Linked DNA regions of Homo sapiens. The protein of the gene in region 1 interacts with the protein of each later gene in a biochemical or structural test. Each region holds a gene or a part of one and is shown on either strand. Other genes may lie near its edges.

Region 1 (4,366 bases):
ATGCTGTGAGACAGCCTGGGGATACTCATCTTAAAGCACAGTCCTTCCCCAACAGTCTTAGGAATAAATCCTAGAGTGGGCATCTAGCCCAGTGGTTACGGGGAGCTTGGGTGGGGTGAGTGGAGTAGCATCTTTGGGAAGGGTTCCTTCCCCTGGAAGGTGTGACTTTGTGAGCTGAGTTTTAAAGGTTGAGTAGCAGTTGGCAAATTCCCTGGAGAGAGCATCTCAAATCTTTTGTGCTGAAGAACCAGCCATTTTTGTTCCCAGTCGGCCAGGTACCAATACACTGCGGCGCCAGGTGTGACTCACCACGTGAGTCTGACAACACCCAAACTGGTTTATACTCGGTTCAAAGAGTCCACTGATCATGTGCTTGGATGTCGTGGCATTATTAAATTGCTACAAACGTTTACTCTTAATTTCTCTACTTGTTACAAGCTTTCGTTCAGCACAGGACCAGGTAGCACCTGAGGGGCACCTGGAAAGCAGATTGTTCCAGCCTGCGTTCTAACAAGGTTCCCAGGTGACCCTCGCACAGCATAAAGTTAAAAGAACTGCCCTAGGGGAAACGGGACTCAGTGCCAGGTGGGTTTGATCATTCGTCCATCTCAGTGCCATCTGCCATCTCTGCTTCCTTGAGGTCTAGAAAAGGGTTACATTTTTAAAGGTGATATTGGCCACGTCCCCTTCCAGTTTCAAAACTACATTTCCCCGCTGTTACGCAAACGTCTTAAGCAAACCCGACTGCAGGACAGAAAGTCAACACGGGAATGCAGCTTCCAGAAATTCTGATTAGCCTCCGTCTTCCGCTTTGATCTGGCCCCGCAGCCCCGGCAGCTCCGCTGACCGCGCTTCCTTCCCGAGATTGCTAGTCTACCGGGCTGCATTAATGAGATCCGTGTTGAGCCGGTTCCCGGGTCTGCTAAACATGAAAGGCACAGAAGCCCCCAGTCCCTTCTCCTCCCCTCTAAGTGATTGTTTAGTCTCTCTCTGCAGAGGGAAGAGTTAAATCCCCTCCCCACGCCTACGTGGGAAGACCTGGGGAAACACGCGGCCCCCTCCCGGGTCCGCTAACGAGCCTGCGGCTGCTTCGGGCTTAGAGTGGGCGGGGCCTGGTCGGGAAGGGGGCGGGGCGCTCCGCCCGGGCGGGGCCAGACGGTGTGGTTGGCGGAGGGCCAAGCTCCTGGGGGCGGGGCCGCGAGCGGGAGGGCGGGGCCGGCTGCGGGAGGGCGGGGCCGGCTGCGGGAGGGCGGGGCGAGGTCGCTGGGCTGTAGTCCCGCGGGCGAGAGCTGGCTGAGCCGCGGCGCGGGACTGCTCACCTCCAAGCGCTCGCGCGGGGATCGCGGCTCCTGCTCACTTTGCGGCCCGCTGTCCTCCTGCCCGCCCCGAGGGCCCCCGGCCGGAGCGCAGAGGGAGGGGGCCGCGCTCGCCAGCACCCCGCCGCCTTCCCCCGCCTGGGGGAAGAATGTGCCACCAGCTGTTCTCCGCTTGCGAGCGCTGCGCCCAGTAGTGAGGAACTTGGAGGAAGAAGAGACAAAGGCTGCCGTCGGGACGGGCGAGTTAGGGACTTGGGTTTGGGCGAACAAAAGGTGAGAAGGACAAGAAGGGACCGGGCGATGGCAGCAGGGGAGCCCCGCGGGCGCGCGTCCTCGGGAGTGGCGCCGTGACACGCATGGTTTCCCCGGACCCGCGGCGGCGCTGACTTCCGCGAGTCGGAGCGGCACTCGGCGAGTCCGGGACTGCGCTGGAACAATGGATAACTTCTTCACCGAGGTAAGTGCGCTCCCAGTCCGACCTGGCCTCCGGAGCCCAGGGAGAGAGGCGTCTGCCCACCACGCCGCGCGCCCTGGGTACTTTTTCCTAAGCCCTGGAAGGCGCAACTTTCTGGGAGTCTCCTGAAATCACCCCCCATCCCCCCGCGGAGTCTCTGATGAGTAAGCCCGGGCAGGTTTTGTTTCGTCCTGTCCCGCGCTCGCATTTTGCTCCGGGAGGTAGCGAAGGTGCGTTTCCGTTTGCGTGGGTGGCTGGCTCTCGGGGCGCCCTGGGACACCCGCGCCAGGTGAGGCGGCGCGCGCCGGGGCGCGGGCGGGGCGATCCGCCCGCTCGACTGCCCGGGTGCAGGAAGCCCAATAAAATGTTCAGCGGGGACCTGCCTTTCTCCAAGAAAGGTCTTGTCTGGTATTTCCTTTGCAAAACGTGCGGGCTTCCTGTGCAGGGGTTCAAACACTTCCAGAGGAGACGGCTTAATGAAGTGTGAGAAGGAGAGGCAAGGGTTTAATCGGTTACTTTGCTCGCCGAGAAGTGCTCTTTTAAGGCTTGGGATAACTCCAGACCCTGGGATCAAATGATCATGTATTTGTGTAGAGTGTCCATGCAGATTTTGAATTCGAATGTAAAGAAAATTCGTTTAGGGCAAACAGTGGCTATTTTAATAGATGAAACGGATGCCCTCTTTAGGGTCGTTGAGGGTGGGACACTGAAACTTAACTTGAGAACCCTTTTTCCCCCTTTGGGATCGAGACTTACTGTGGTTTCTTGGCTCCCTTTCCTTTCTTGGTTGTGTTTATTTAATAAATTCTGTTTAAGTTTGAGGTTTGAAGTGGCTCAAAGTAAACTTAGTTGACTTGAGAGAGTCTGATGTGATTTTCGTTGAAAGCCAGGGAATGTTTTCTGAGTGCAGAACCGCTTTGGAGTCTTCCAGCAAATCAGATTGATGAGGGCTTGCCTCTGTGTTAGCCGACTTGGTTTATCTGATTTAATTGGATATAATATTTCAAGTCATTCTGCTTTCTGCATGCTCACTGACTGTATTCTCAGACAGCTATTCATACTGGCCAAAGTGATAAATGCATTCTTGTTTAGTAGTCATATCTAGTTTTTAAAAGTGGTGTTTCAGATGTGATACCCACATTCATTGTGGAAGGAAGACTAGAAAGGAATTATCCATCAATACATATTTTTCCTTTTCTTAAAAAAAGTGAAATATATATAATTGTGAGACGCTCGCATTTTCTAGTCCATAGACTTTTGTTTTCATGCTTGTCGAAAGGCACCAGAACTTTCTGCAAGAGTTGCACGTTGTCCAGTGGTAAAGGACCCTCGGGCTACAGTGAGTTCCGGTGTTTAATTGCTTGCATCTGTAAGAAAACGGAGGCCCTGCCCCTAGGGCAATGATTCTTAACTTTGTTGTTTTTGTGTTCTGGGTCCCTTAGAAAATCTGATGAAAATATAGAAATTTGTATTCAGTTTGCACGGATCTCACTCCTCCTGTAGCCTGTCTGAGCACCACAGGGGTCCGTGGCTCCCCCTTGGGGAGAACTCTGCCCCCTAGTGCAAGTGGGGGGAACATCAGGATAACGCGCTACAGCGTCCTGATCTCCTGTTACCCGGTGAGACTTTGACTTTTCAAAGTACTCTTTTCATCTTGCACTGGATACCTTAGTTCAGTGTAAGGGGCCTGGTTGTTGGATTTTATTTCTGTGATCAATATTATTTTGCAGTTGGCCATTAGTGATCTTCTACTTTCTCCTCTTCATTTTGTAGACAGAATCTTAACCCAAAGATATGAGTAAGTCCCTTGCCCAGCTTTGAAGAGCTTGTTCACGAATCCAGAGCCTTTTTCCTTTGCTGCTGGTGACTTTGGTATTTCTGGGAACTTTTCGCTTATTTTAAGGTTATACTTTTAATCTTGTGATGTATGTGTATTACAATATTAACTTCTAATCAGCCGTGAAAGTTCCACCCTTAAATCTAATCACTTTGAGTGGGAAGGAAGCAGGGCCAGTCAGAGAGGTTAAATAGTGAGGTATTAATTGTAGACATACTCTTAACATAGATCCCAGCTCCCCTTTCTCTCTCTCATGTCTTGTAATGGAGCATCCTTTTGTTAAATTGTCCAGTGAAGAAAATGCTGTAATTAATGTCCTGTTAGAATAGAAACAGCGAGTGTGGAAGTGATATATTCCCCAAGGACAGCTAAATTGTTTGGCCTCCTTATCACTAAGTAGAATTCTGTCTTTGCTAACTTTTCCCATTGTGGCTTAGGGGTAAATGACTTGTTGCTTGTTGGACAACAGTTTAAAGCCAGTGCTAACAATTGGGGAAAAATTACTGAATGAGATGTTGCCTGTTTAGCTTTGTGTATGAATGGCCAAATAATAAGGAAATGGGAGCTGCTTGTGATTCGCAACTGCTATTTCTAGCTAGACCAGGGTTTCTCAAACCTGGTACCATTGCTGAGTAATTCTTTGTTGTTGGAGGCCGTCCTGTGTGTTGTAGGAGGTTAAACGCATCCCTGGACTCTACTCAGTAATTGTTAACCCTATCCCCCAAGTTGTGACAACCCGAAAGGTCTGCAGACATTGCT
Region 2 (3,811 bases), on another chromosome or scaffold:
ACAAAAAATTAGCCGGGCGTGGTGTCGGGCGCCTGTAGTCCCAGCTACTTGGGAGGCTGAGGCAGGAGAATGGTGTGAATCCGGGAGTCGGAGCTTGCACTGAGCCGAGATTGTGCCACTGCACTCCAGCCTGGGTGACAGTGAGACTCCGTCTCCAAAAAAAAAAAGAGAAAAAGAAAAAGAAGTACAGTCAGCCCTCTATATCCATGGGTTCTGCATCTGTGGATTTGCACAACTGCAGATCTAAAATATTCAGAAAAATAATTCCAGGTTCTAAAAAACAAAACTTGAATATGCCACGCTTGAGTACTGCATTGAATTCATGCAAATTAAATGATAGGTAGGCATTGTATTAGGTATTGTAAGTAATCTAGAGATTATTTAAAGTACAAGGGAGAATGTGCATAGGTTATATGCAAATGTGACCCCATTTTTATAAGTGACTTTAAGCATCAGCAGATTTTGGTATACAGGGGAGATCCTAGAATCAATCTCCTATGGACAACAAGGGATGACTGTGTACTAATGAGTAGACTTCAGTTTGATTTTTTTGTTTGTTTGTTTTTTGTTTTTTTTTGAGATGGAGTCTCGCTCTGTTGCCCAGGCTGGAGTCAGTGGCGTGATCTTGGCTCACTGCAACCTCCGCCTCCAAGCGATTCTCCTACCTCAGCCTCCTGCATAGCTGGGACTACAGGTGCGTGCTGCCACACCTGGCTAATTTTGTATTTTTAGTAGAGACGGGGTTTCACCGTGTTGGTCAGGCTGGTCTTGAACTTCTGACCTCGTGATCCACCCGCCTTGGCCTCCCAGAGTGCTGGGATTACAGGTGTGAGCCACTGCACCCAGCCAGAATTCAGATTTTTAGTTGAGTCAAGTAAATGAGATTATTAATAAATGAGTCCCAGAGAATATGGGATTTCTTCTTAAAAAGCCAGAACATAAATTTTCTGCACCTAGATCAGTATATTTTAAGGAAATTTGCCTTACTTGTTGTACTTATGAATTTCTAAACCTTTCAGATCCTCTAACGTAGCTTTCATTAGATATCCCAAAACATATTTGCCAGCTGTTGAATGTAATACCACCTCACAGTCTGGGTAAGGACAGTTTATGACAAGTGGACAGGCAAGGAGGAGACTGGTGTTAAGCATTTTAGTGATGATGCCCATACACAGGTAACTTTTCAAAGTTTATTCTACTCTATACCAACAGAAATCAGAGTTGCTATTTCTCTAGAAGAAAACATACACACACCTGTGCCAAGGGAATAACAGAATGGATTTATGCTTTAACCTTCTTTTTTTCTCTCCCACCCATCCCTTCCATATGTTTGTTTTTCCAGAATTATCTTTTGGGGAAAAAAGAAACAGCTGAGATGGCAGATAGAAACAAAGAAGTCCTCTTGGAGGTATGACAACCCCCATTTTCCTGCACATTTAAAAATTAAAATATTAGGCCAGGCATGGTGGCTCACGCCTGCAATCCCAACACTTCGGGAGGCTGAGGTGAGTGAATCACAAGATCAGGAGTTCAAGACCAGCCTGCCCAAGATGGTGAAACCCTGTCTGTTAAAAAATAAAAAAATTAGCCAGGCGTGGTGGTGGGCGCCTGTAATCCCAGCTACTCGGGAGGCTGAGGCAGGGAATTGCTTGAACCCGGGATGCGGAGGTTGCAGCGAGCCGAGATTGCACCACTGCATTCCAGCCTAGCAACAGGGTGAGACTCTGTCTCAATAAAATAAATAAATAAATAAATAAATAAAATAAAATATTAAATACCTTTTTGAAGTCAAGTATGTCAGTGTTCTATATTTGTAGTTACAATTTTAATTAAAGAAGCCTGTGTATTCTTTGATAGTATGAGGGAGAGAGTTCAACTGTGTGAACGTGTTAGGCCACTGAAGACCCTTTATTATTTTGCCAAGCCATATTCTAGTGATCTAAGAATAATGAGCTTTTAGGGGCTGCCAAGTGGGAGAGGTGGCTGGTCAATGAAGGATGTGGTTTTGCTGTTTTTATCTGCTTACTCAGAGAGAAATTTGAATATAATTAGCTGTTCACAAATTATTTCCAGCCTTATCCTTAAATAATTAAATAATTTTTAAAATCATGATCATTTTTTGGAAAAATATAATTGAATTTTTGGCTGATTTTATAGAACTAAAATCAAATAACTTAGTATACTTGAAAACCTGAATAAACCCTTACTTACCAGCAAGGCAATTAGGAAGCGAAGATCAACATTCAGTTTTCATAGTGATACTAACTACGGTTAAGTAAAAATCTGCCTTGTAATTCCTAATTTTTCTGTACTTTGAGGAGAAAAATTAATTTAGGCCCAAATGTCCTATATTAGTGTTTTCTGAGGATTTCTCTTTTCTTTCACAAATACATGATTGATTTCTTTAATATTAGATTTTTATCAAAGCATAGTGTTTAGAACTTAGAATTTTGAGTGTTTATAGTCCTTTCAACCTAGTATTATTTTTTAAATAAATGCCCTCTTTGTCTTAGAGTCACATAAATGGATAGTTTTTAAATTCTTAAAGTTTAATCATACACTTAGCACGTTGCATTCTTTTAAAATATATTCCTGTTTAGTTTGACAGCTAATCTAAATGTAGAGAAAAAATAAAGTCTAACGCTTGGTTTGCCCTGACAGTTTTATTAAATTTAGTGTAACTGTGCTGTTTGCAAAGGTATTTAACTACTGTTACATGCAACTCAGTTCATGTGTCAACTTAGTTTTTCTCCGAAACAGTGTTTTAGTTAAAAGTTTGTAGGTAAAAATTCAGTATTACATGTATGACTGGCATTTTTATTTAATAAACATTTTAGGATTGCCATAGTAGTTCCAAATTCATATTGTGTTTAGAATAGAAAGTGTTTTGTCTTGTTTTTGTTTTTGTTTTTGTTTTTGTTTTTGTTTTGAGACAGAGTCTCGCTCTGTTGCCCAGGCTGGAGTGCAGTGGTGTGATCTCAGCTCACTGCAATCTCCGCCTCCCAGGTTCAAGCAATTTTTGTGCCTCAGCTGCCCACATAACTGGGACTACAGGCTCGCGCCACCATGCCTGGCTTTTTTTTTTTTTTTTAAGTAGAGACGTGGTTTCACTATGTTGGCCAGGCTGGTCTTGAACTCCTGACCTCAAGTGATCCACCCGCTTCCCAAAGTGCTGGGATTACAGGCATGAGCCACTACACCTGGCTGGAAAGTTCTAATTGAGGTTAAATTAGCAGCTTGGTTTTAATATAAAACCATTTTGGTTTAATAACTGTCATGCATTTCACAGGAGTAAACACAACTTTGTTCTGAGAATCCAACGATCATAAGTCTTTGCAAATAATCTTGTTATTTTAGGAATGTTTTTGTGGAAGTTCTGTAACTGTACCAGAAATTGAAGGAGTCCTTTGGTTGAAGGATGATGGCAAGAAGTCCTGGAAAAAGCGTTATTTTCTCTTGCGAGCATCTGGTATCTACTATGTTCCCAAAGGAAAAGCAAAGGTGTGTCCCTTCTGTTGGAATTTGAACTTCCTCATTATGCTAATTGCTTTTAATTTGTATTGAGTATGCTGACAAGGTGAACCCAGGCTATGATTTGTTTCAGTTCGTGGAAGACATAGAATATTGCTTTGTTTATTAATCTATTATAAAGAAGAAGAAACCTGAAAGTTCTTACTTCTCTGGTCACTAGTTGAGCCTATCTCAGTTCTCTTTACCAAATTTGAAATCATAGTTTTATTTGTTGTTTTTTGGGGACTCTTTCTGGAGTAGTTTTGTTTATTTTTGTTTGGGAAGAACAGCACAGCTCTCT

Evidence for each region.
Region 2: the proteins of MYO10 (region 1) and RAPH1 form a complex in vitro, tested with the Homo sapiens proteins (one large-scale study listed by BioGRID).

Annotation. Positions count from the first base shown.
Region 1 is NC_000005.10:16,933,195-16,937,560, reverse strand, and holds the start of MYO10 (unconventional myosin-X), read left to right. Parts: upstream 1-1,272; 5' UTR 1,273-1,752; coding exon 1,753-1,773; intron 1,774-4,366. UniProt on the Homo sapiens protein: Myosins are actin-based motor molecules with ATPase activity. Unconventional myosins serve in intracellular movements. MYO10 binds to actin filaments and actin bundles and functions as a plus end-directed motor.
Region 2 is NC_000002.12:203,455,127-203,458,937, reverse strand, and holds part of RAPH1 (ras-associated and pleckstrin homology domains-containing protein 1), read left to right. Parts: intron 1-1,342; coding exon 1,343-1,408; intron 1,409-3,357; coding exon 3,358-3,501; intron 3,502-3,811. UniProt on the Homo sapiens protein: Mediator of localized membrane signals. Implicated in the regulation of lamellipodial dynamics. Negatively regulates cell adhesion.